Linked DNA regions of Homo sapiens: region 2 is linked to region 1. A link means that fine-mapping ties the variant in region 1 to the plasma level of a protein whose gene starts in the linked region. Region 1 holds a variant in brackets. A gene starts in the other region. All regions are shown on one strand. Distances are between the middles of the regions.

Region 1 (5,376 bases):
TTATAAATTTCCCTCAACATTGCTGCATCCAGAGATTCTAGTACATTCTTTGTTCATATCGGTTTCAAAGAACTTCTTCTTTTCTACCTTAATTTCATTATTTACCCAGGAGGCATTCAGGAGCAGGTTGTTCAATTTCCAAGTAGTTGTGTGGTTTTGAGTGAATTACTCAATCTTGAGTGCTAATTTGATTGTCCTGTGGTCTGAGAGACTGTTTGTTAAGATTTTAGTTCTTGTGTATTTGTGGAGGAGTGTTTTACTTCCAATTATGTGATCAATTTTAGAGTCAGTGCCATGTGGCACTAAAAACAATGCATACTCTGTTGTTTTTGGGTAGAGAGTTCTGTAGATATCCATCAGGTCCACTTGATCCAGAGCTAAGTTCAAGTCCTGAATATCATTGTTAATTTTCTGACTCAATGATCTGTCTAATATTGTCAGTGGCATGTAAAACTCTCCCAGTATTATTGTGTGGGAGTCCAAGTCTCTTTATAGGTCTCCAAGAATTTCTTTCATGAATCTGTGCTCCTGTGTTGGATACACATATATTTAGGATAATTAGCTCTTCTTGTTGAATTGATCCCTTTACCATTATGTAATGCCCTTCTTTCTCTTTCTTGATTTTGTTGTTGTTGTTGTTGTTTAAAGTCTGTTTGGTCATAAACTAAGATTGCAACAGATTGCTTCTATCTGCTTTTCATTTACTTGGTAAATTTTCCTCCATCCCTTTATTTTGAGCCTATGCATGTCTTTGCAAGTGAGATGGGTCTCTTGAATTCAGCACACCATGGGTCTTGACTCTTTATCCACCTTCCCATTCTGTGCCTTTTACTTGGGGGATTTTGCCAATTTCCATTAAAGGTTAATATTGTTATGTGTGAATTTGATCTGGTCATCATGATGCTAGCTGGTTATTTTGCAGACTTGTTGATGTAGTTGCTTCACAGTGTCACTGGTCATTGTATTTCATTGTGTTTTTGTAGTGGCTGGTAATGGCTTTTCCTTTCCATATTTAGTGCTTTCTTCAGGAGCTGTTGCAAGGCAGGCTTAGAGCTGACAAATTCCCTCAGCATTTGCTTGTCTGAAAAGGATTTTAATTCTCCTTTGCTGATGAAGCTTAGTTTGACTGAATATGAAATTTTGGGTTGAAAATTCTTTTATTTAAGAATGTTGAGTATTGGCCCCCAATCTCTTCTGGCTTGTAGGGCTTCTGCTGACAGGTCTGCCTTTAATCTGATGGGCTTCCATTTGTAGGTGACCTGGCCTTTCTCTCTGGCTGCCCTTAACATTTTTTTCGTTCATTTCAGCCTTGGAGAATCTGATGATTATGTGTCTTGGGGTTGATCTTCTCATGGAATATCTTACTGAGGTTCTCCGTGTTTCCTGAATTTGAATGTTGGCCTGTCTTGCTAGGTTGAGGAAGTTCTCCTGGATAATATTCTAAAGTATGTTTTCCAACTTGGCTCCATTCTCTCCATCTCTTTCAGGTACCCCAATCAGTCATAGGTTTGGTTTTTTTACATAATTCAATAGTTCTGGTAAGTTTTGTTCATTCCTTTTCATTATTTTTACTCCAATCTTGTCTGCCTGTTTTATTTCAGCAAGATAGTCTTCAAAATCTGAAATTCTTTCCTCTGGTTGGACTAGTTGGTTATTGATATTTGTGGTTGCATTGTGAAGTTTCTGTGCTGTGTTTTCCAGTTCCATCAGGTCATTTATGTTCTTCTCTAAACTGGTTATTCTGGTTAACAGCTCCTGTAATTTTTTTCATGTTTCTTTGATTCTTGGCATTGGGTTAAAACATGCTTTTTTAGTTCAGCAAAATTCATTATCACTCACCTTCTGAAGCCTACTTCTGTCAATTCATCCATTACAGCCTCTAACCAGTTCTGTGTCCATGCTGGAGTGGTGTTGTGATCATTTGGAGGAGAAAAGTCACTCTGGCTTTTTTGGTTTTCAGTGTTTCTTCATTAATTCTTTCTCATCTTCATGAGTTTATATTTAGCTTTCATCTTTGAGGCTGCTGACCTTTGGATGAGGTTTTTGTGAGGACTTTTTTTTTTGTTGATGATGTTGTTGTTGCTTTCTGTTTCTTTGTTTTTCTTTTAACAGTCAGGCCTCTCTTCCACAGGCCTGCTGAAGTTTGCTAGGGGTCCACTCCAGAACCTATTCACCTGGGTTCCTCCCACACCTGGAGGTGTCATCAGTGGAGGCTGAGGAACAGAAAAGATGGCTGCCTGCTCCTTCCTCTGGGAGCTCCGTCCCAGACTGGCACTGACAGGATACCAGCAGGAACACTCCTGTATAAGATGCCTAGAGACCCCTTTTGGGGTGATCTAGGGGACCACCTAGAGTGGCCTAGTTGGGGAGGCATGGGATCAGGGACCAGCTTAAATAAGCCCTCTGGTTGCCCCTTGGTGCTGGGGGTAATGTTGCTTCTCCGTACTGCCTAGATTCTTCAGAGCCAGCAGGAGGAAAGACTCAGTCGACTAATCCATGGCATCCATGGCTGCCACTCCTTCTAGGGCCTCTGTCCCAGAGAGATCAGACTTCTGTCTGCAAAACCCTGGCTGGAGTTGCTGAAGTTTCTGCAGGGAGAACCAGCCCAGTGAGTTAGGACGGATCAGAGTCTGGCCTAAAGAGGCAGTCTGGCCACGATCTGCCACAGCCACTGTGCTGTGCTGTGGAGAATTCCTCCTGGTTCCAAACTGCCCAGTCTCCCTGGCACCAGCAGGAAAAAATGGCAGACTGGAGCTGCAGTGAGGGTGCTGCCCTTCACCCCAGGAGCTCAGTCATCTCAGGCAGCAGGCAATTGCAGTGATGGCCGTCACCTCTCCTCATGGGAACTCAGTAGTCAGGCAGTCCCCAGCCAAGTGGCCACTGATAATCTGTACAGATGTCTGCTTGGGACACAAGGCCCTGGTGACATGGGCTCATGAGGGGATCTCCTGATCTGTGGGTTGCACAAATCCGTGGAAGGAAAAATGTGGTTTCCCATGTGGGATAGAACAATTGCTCACTGCCTCCCTTC[G/A]TTGCGGGTGGGAGTTCCCCTTGCCCCACGTGGCTCCCGGGTGGGCCATCAGTCCACCCTGCTTTTCCTTATTCTCCATGGGTCATGCTAACTGCCTCGTCAGTCCCAGCAAGAGAACCTGGATACTTCAGTTGCTGGTGCAGAATTCACTTGCTGTTTTCATTCTTCTCAGTGGGAGCCTCCTACCAAAGCTGTTTCTAGAGGGCCATCTTGGCCACCTCCCCCCATTTTTATTTTCACTAATTGAAATTTAGCATTTCTTTTAATTATGCATGTAGGCAAAATGTTACAATTAATTGTATTTGTGTGTGTATATATATATATATATATAGCTTTGCACTAATAAAATTCCAGTTATTTGCATAACATATTAGTTATTAGAGTAATCTCAAAATATTGCTTATGCTCATTAGTAATTTTAGATTATAGTAACTACTAGGCTCACTGAAATATCTTCCTATTGAATGAACTTAATAAAAAAATCACATTTTTTTTCTTCAACTTTTAAGTTCAGGGGTACATCTTCAGGTTTGTTACACAGGTAAACATTTGCCATGGTGGTTTGCTGAACAAATCATCCCATCACCTAGGTATTAAGCCCAGCATCCCTTAGCTAAGAATCACATTATTCTATCACAAACTTTAAAATGATTTGGTAAGTATATTTCCATAAAATGGGTCCCTTTTTTAGTCTAATGCATTGTACTTTATGTATTTGAAAACGTTTTTTTCAAAGATGGTTTACTACAGGCACCCAGCACCCAACTCATCCACGGAGAAGTACAAAAACAGCAAGTAGATAATCACATGTCAAAGACAGAGTTTAAGAGAGAACACTGGAATTTAGCAAAGCAGTGACAGGAAACCTCTAAGGCATGGAAGGAGAGGGACGCAAAGTAGTGCAGAGTCAAAAAGAACTCCCCAGTGTGGAAGAAAAGCAAGCAAGAGATCCCCAGTGGTTCAGGTTCCCACCACAGACTCCTGTAATCCTAGCCATGGAGAAGCCCTCAGCTGTTGCAGGCCCTGAGTATAGGGAGTTACCTAAAGCCTACACCCTGGCATTATTCCAGAGGAGTGTGTGCTGGGTTCCACATACAACTCTGGGACCCAAGCAGCTGCTTCACAGCGCCATTTTGAGAGTACGACTCCCACCAGACTACATCCTGCTCTGGGACCCAACAGACCCTGCATCTCTACATCCCAAAAGCCCTGCAGACATCCTCTCATGCCCACTCAGAGGAATGCAACATTATGACACTGGCTGGACCCATAAATGCAGCCAGATACTCAGAACTCTAGCAGTGCACTGGATAGGCTGCCTCTGGGACATATGGAGCTAAAATATGCAGTAACCAGATCCTGAGAGCCACTTGCCTAGGGCTGCTGCCACTGATGGCATCCCCACTGACCACTAGCAGCAAGGAAGCCATTTGTCTACATGTACATTCATGAATCCTGGGACCAGCTTGCCCAGGCACAGTGAGGGGCCTGAGAACAGGCCCACCCTGCCCACTGACACTGACACCCAAGCACACTATCTGCTATCCGGGGGCCTGGGAAACGACCCAGCCTGCCTGTTGACACTGGTACACATGTGCACAATAGGAAAGCCTAACAACAGGCCCTGTCAACCTGCCACAGTCAACAGACTGAAGAGACAACCTGTAGAATGGAAGAAAATATTTGCAAACTATGAATCCAACAAGTGACTAATATCTGGAATATACTAAGATACCAAAAAAACTCAAGAGCAAAAATACAAATAATCCCATTTAAAAGTGGGCAAATAATCCGAATAAACATTCTTCAAAAGAAGACTCACAAATGTCCAACAGACATATAAAAAATTCTCAACACCAATAATCATTACAGAATTGCAAATCAAAACCACAGTGAGATTCTGGATTCAAGATAGGAGACTAGATGCAGCCAGGAAGTACATCTGCCATCAAGAAACAGACATCAGAAAGATTGGTACACTCTGAGCAGATCTTCAGAGTGAAGCCTTGAGAATGGATGTAGCAAGGACAAAGATGCTAGGATGAAGGGGGAAGATGATAGAAACCATGTACAGAGCTACCATGCACTGGGACTTGTTCCTGGATTGCAGCAACTCCTGGGGAAGGGGTGAGTTAAACAGGTGAGGAGCAACCTACTTTCACCATGGACCTCTGGAATCCTGGCAGCAGGAGACCTCACAACCACTACAGACACTTCAGCTGGCAGCACAGCGACTTAGACAGATAGTAGGAGCAGGACTCCAGGCTGTGGAGATTCCAGAGGGTCTGGTGTGGAAATGCCTGCAGTGGAGCATGGCCAGGGATGTGTAAGTCCCAAAGGTTGCT
Region 2 (5,376 bases), 11 Mb before region 1:
GAGTTCATCAAGCATTGATCAAGTGTTGGCTATTATTATTATTTTGGGTGTGGGTTTCAATTCCTTTTTAGCCATCTTATTTTTATTGTGGCACACCTGAGGCCTGGGAGCTCATTATAGAAGGATACATTCAAATGTGAACATTTTTCTCCTTGGGCTTATTCAACAGATATATTGATATATATAATATGTAAAAATGTATTGAGCGCTTAAAATACTCTAGGTACAGTTTTGCATGTGGAAATTTGTGAAATGGTATATAAGGTCCCTGCCACATAGGTTCACACTCCAGTGAGAGAAGTTAGAATCAGGCCAGAGGGACAATGGAGGGTGGGAGGAACTCTGTAAAATCCCTGCACTTGAGGGGCAAGTGGAGAATGAGAATCCATAAAATGCTGTAGAGAAATAAGTGAAACTAGAAGACATTAGTTCCATGAAAGTCAAGGGAAGAGAGTCAGAAAGAAAAGAATCCAGACAATGTTGGATGTTTTAGATAATTCAAATAAGAAAACAGAAGAATCCATGGGTTTGATAGTATGAAAATCATGGGTGACCTTGAGAAGAGCAAAATGTAGTGAGTTTGGAAATGAAGAGGTGGAGGTGAGGATATGAAAAGAATTAATCTTAGTTCAGAATGGAAAGACAATTTAGGAGAAAGAGCCAGAGGAAGAAAGACCATGAAGATACAAATAAAGCAAAATGGAATAGACAGGAGTAAACACAGATGGAGACAGGAGGGACAGGAGGAAACTCTGAGGTAAGAAACAGGATGAACTTGAATGTGGAGATGTCAGAAGTTGTTTAGACTTCAAGTTTCGTGCCCTTTTACATTCTCGGTGAAACTGGAGGTGAAGTCATCTGCTAGGGGTTTGGGAGCTGTGTTGAGCACTTGACTTAAGAAGAGTGAGTTTTAAAAGCCATCTTGGGCAAGTGGAATAGAAGATTATTTAAAATGAGAGATAACACTATTGGACTGTGCTAGAATCTAGCTGAAGTTTGAAAATTCCCATGGCTAGAAGTAACTCTTATACCCCAGCTTTCTAATTCAGAAGACCTAAGCCTGTATACACCACTGCAGCAAACATTTATGGCCAAGTTTATCTACACACATCTCACAGGCTAAAGAGAACAAGAAGCTGATATTGTGTTCAGGGACATCCTTAGCAATGTTTGAGTTTACAGGGGTTGCCCCACAGGCCTCAGCATCCCCTTAGTCTTTCAGCTTCTTTTCCTGCCCCCTGGTCCCAGTCTTGAGAGGAGCTATAAGGGCCCCATTCTGCCTGGATAACCATGAAGCTCCTTCATGAAAGGTGGTCCTGCCATTGTTGGACACTAGAATTAGAGGCTACCCAGGATTCTCTGAGACACAGCCAAGGCCAGTATTCCCCTGAGTGACCCTAAGTAACCTCTGAGAGAGAGCTGAGGGGTGGCATCAGAGAGCCCTGAATCTCACTGAGCCCCAGAATCTGTCTGGTCCCAGAGATAAGCAGAGTGGAGGCTGGTCCTGCCTATCCTGCTGTCAGGTTAGGCTGGTTCCAGCAGTAGAATGTAGGTAGAGAAACTCTGTACTGATAGTTCTCAGTTTGGGTTCACAAAGTGACTCCTGTTTATCATAAAAGGAGGGGCTGTGGAAAGCCCCCAAGAAATTAGCTGATCCAAACTTAGTTCTGCTGCACAAGCACATGGAGCTAGAGTGGCTCCCCCACAGAGAGCAGAGTTGAGAGCCTTAACCCTACTCACCACCACACTGCACCGGGGGTCCTGGGGCTATGTTGAGAAAAAGCTCACCTACCCAGTGGATTTCAAAAGGCCTAGGCAATCCCATTAGCTTGTACTAGCTAGGGTATTCAAGAAAGTCCACTTTGATAAAGTGACATTTAAGCAGGGATATGGAGGAAGTGAGAAAAGGAGCCATGCTGATATCTGGGGGAAGAATTGGCTAGGCTGAAGGAGCAGCAAGTGCAAAGACCAGAGTCTTGAGCATGCTTTGAGTGTTGGAAAAAATATCAAGGCCGCCAGTTGGGGTTGGGTATGGTGGTCAAGGCGAGTGGTAAGAGGTGAGATCAGAGATAGAGGGGCAGGTTAGTGAGGATGGGATGGCGTGGGATAGATTGTAGACTATTATAGACCATAGTTAAGGATTTTGGGTTTTCTGCTGAATAAGAAGCCAACCAGTAGAATTGCTTGGACAGACTTAGACTGATGTACTTTTAAAAGGATCATTCTGGTTGCTCTGCTGAGAATTGACTGGAGTGGGGTAAGCATGAGAGCAAGGAGAGCTATTGGAGGATATGGCAATAATTCAGGTGAAAAGTAATCGTGGCTTGCACCAGAGTGGTTGCAGTGAAGGTGCTAAGAAGTTGGTGAAATTCAGAGTTTATCTCTGAGGCAGGAGGCAGAGCTGATAGGATGTGCTGATGGGTTGAATGTGAGGTGTGAGCAAAAGGAGAGGGGAGGATAATTCTAATGATTGTGGCTTCATAGATTATGAAGATAAAATGAATTAATTCATGAAAAAAATTTGAGCAGTGCCTGGCAAGTGCTTAGTGAGGGCCAGCTAACTGTTATAGTATTATTGGACAAGTTATGGTGGAGGACAGTGGTTTCATATTTGCTGCTTATAATCACTTTCCACAATAGCTTGTGGACTCTGACATATCCCTGGTACCTCTATCTCAAGTTTCCTCCTGTACTTCCAGGCAGAATCACAGAGTACAAGGAGCCTCTTCATCTACAAAATGAGGATGGTAACCTCAACCTCATAGAATGGTTGTAAGGTATAAAGGGACACATATGCATGATTTATAGGTGCTCAGTAAATGTTATTCTTGTCCACCTTCTAAACCTTTGCTACTAAAACTATGGTCTGTGGCCCAGCACCATCAATATCACCTGGAAGCAGTTAGAAAATCAGAGTCTTAGTCCCACACCACAGCTGCTAACTCAGAATCTGTGTTTTAACAAGATCCTTAGGTGATTTGTGTGCACATTAATATGAGAGAAGCACGGCTCTAGCGTTTCAAGGTCATCCAGTCCAACAGTCTCTTCAGGATACAGATGCAGAAAGGAAAACTAAGAGAGAGGAAGAGATTTACATGATGTTACACTTAGTTTTGTCAAGACATCTAAATTCCAAGCTAGGGTTCTTTACACTAAAGTTTCAAAACTGTCTGTAATTCAGCTTCTCTGGGTAGGAAAGGATGGAGAAAAAGAAGAGGTCCTGTTTTCTAGGAAAGGACAGAACAGAATTAGGAGGTACCCAGGGTAGCTATTTTCATTTGAATCTCACAGATGATTTCAGAGGTCCCTAAATTGCATTCATGTATTTATTTATATTTAATAAACACTTCTATACCACTACGTCCCAGAAATCATTCTAAGCTCCTTACGCATATGAACACTATTTTGTATATTAACTCATATAATACCTAAAACAATCCTATGAGTAAGGGATTGTTATTTTCCCCACTTTACAGAAGAGAATCCTGAGCCACAGAGTGGTTAAGTAACTTGCCTTAGGTCACAAAGCTAGTAAGGGGCAGACCTAGGATTCCAATTCTGGCAGTTTTCCCTTCTACTAGGCCTGAGCCCACAGTAGCCTATTCTGGTCTTAACTCTAGCTAGGGGACAGATATGAAGTTCATTTAGGACTTTTTCTACTTCAGCTTAGGGCCTATTCAGCCCTTTCCCACCAAAGGCTTTTCAGCTGCTTTACTGAGACTCCACCCTGAGCTGGCATATAGCCTCTGCCCAGTACAGGAGGGGTCCCTCAGAGACTGATAATGGCTCATTTCTTGGTCCTCTCCCCCATACCTTGGCTCAAGCTTTTCTTTTCCTCTACCCATTAGGCTATTTCCTCTTTGACCTCTTTTAAAAGCTCCTAATCTATTGAAAAGCATTTGCTTTCCTTGTCAGACTCTTTTTTACTCCTTCTTCCTACTGGCCCCCAAACCCTTCCAGTCTGCACCTCATAGTTTGGCCCTTAATTCTCTGTCTCTGTCCGGTCTACTTTATCTTCCCAGCTCTGCAAACTCTTCAAGGTCAGGGACTAGTAACGTTTCGGGATTTATCCACCGCTGCCTCTGAGATCATGGATTAATAAACTCCCAAAGTGTCATTGTTTGAAGTGCCCTTAGAGACTACGTAGCTCAACCCCCTCCTTGTACAGACACTCAGGGGCCCAGAGAAGATGGATGATCAAAGCTGAGTGCCGAATCCAATTTTCCTTTATTTTTAGTGGTCTTTTCCCTGCTTCATGTCTGCTCTCTTCCTCCTGTCACAATCCTATCTACCCTTCTGAATGGAGGAGTATTTTTTTGAGGCAGATGCAGAGCTGGAAAGCGGCTTCTCCATGTGTCTGAAAATTTTGGCTTTTCCAACAATAATTTTCCCTGTCAAACTCCAAGCCTGCTAAGTCATGAATAAACTTTGATGAGCTGAGCTGCATTCAGCTGTGAAAGAGACAACTTGATGCTTTCTCTGGACCCCACTCCCTGGCCCTCTACTCTCTGGCCCCCGCTTCAGTCCCAGGAGATTTGCAGCTCCTGCCATACCAGTGGCTGGGTCACTGTTCTTCAGCCTCACATTGTTCCTCTCAAAGGCAGTTTCTTTTCGTAGCCACGCCTAGGCACTCAAACAGTCCAATAGCTGCTCTAGGAACTTCACGGGGGCGGAAGAGGTAAGCTTACCGTGAAAGGAGGGTTTGGGCTGTTGTTGCTACACGTGGATGTGAAATGAGTCAAGCGGAACTTTGATTACAAGGAATTTCATATACTGTGAGTGTGTATGCAGGCTGGGGGCTGAGGGGCGGGGGCTGAGGGGCGGGGCTGATGGGCGGGTCTGAGGGGCGGGGGCTGAGGGGCGCGGGGTGAAGGGCGGGGGGTGACGGGAGGGGGCTGGGTGAGATGTGTGCTCTGCGCTGAGGTGGATTTGTACCGGAGTCCCATTTGGGAGCAAGAGCCATCTACTCGTCCGTTACCGGGTGAGTGTGGGAACACCCCCTGGTGTGGCAAGGCGGCTGGGACCTGCGGCATCTAGGTGCAGAAGTACAGAATCAGGTCAGGATGATCCTGCTAGGGTACCGCAAAATCAGAACAATTGGGAAGGCGCCCTGTGGCTGGCTGTCAGTCCATCCATTTGTGTCCGGAGAGCGCTTTCTGAGGTATCAGGGATCTGGGCTGACATCTCTAGGATCTTGGCGAGCCATTTCCTGTAGGCTCTTACTGGACCTGCATTGCCTCTGAGAACATGCCTGGACGTGTCCAACAACCTTGAGCATCTAGGGTTGGGAGATAAAGAAGAGAAGGAGGCTGGGTGTTAGTGAAGGCGGGGACAGTGGATCAGACTTGTGGAGCATCCTGAGGAAAGCAGAACTGC

Direction of the effects. Alleles are on the strand shown, and positions count from the first base shown. The strength of an association depends on the size of the effect and on how common the allele is.
In carriers of allele G in region 1, the plasma level of the protein whose gene starts at base 4,898 in region 2 tends to be higher than with A alone (weak association).

The links. A credible set is the group of variants that fine-mapping cannot tell apart. PIP is the chance, under the fine-mapping model, that this variant and not a neighbour inherited with it causes the effect. The UK Biobank Pharma Proteomics Project read protein levels with antibody pairs (Olink). The fine-mapping took linkage between variants from a reference panel, not from the people measured, so its PIPs are less certain.
Region 2: EDA2R starts here. The variant in region 1 is the best candidate, but not a certain one, in a credible set for the plasma level of the EDA2R protein (UK Biobank, PIP 0.51).

Annotation. Positions count from the first base shown.
Region 1 is chrX:56,006,105-56,011,480 of GRCh38, reverse strand. It overlaps a transcript of KLF8 not described here. Among named protein-coding and RNA genes, the nearest start is that of KLF8, 220 kb to the left of the region's middle. The variant G/A (reference allele first, on the strand shown) is at 3,032.
Region 2 is chrX:66,638,600-66,643,975 of GRCh38, reverse strand. It overlaps EDA2R (ectodysplasin A2 receptor), which reads left to right and starts at 4,898. Exons shown (of 7, transcript NM_021783.5): 1 at 4,898-4,981. RefSeq lists an enhancer at 5,078-5,376.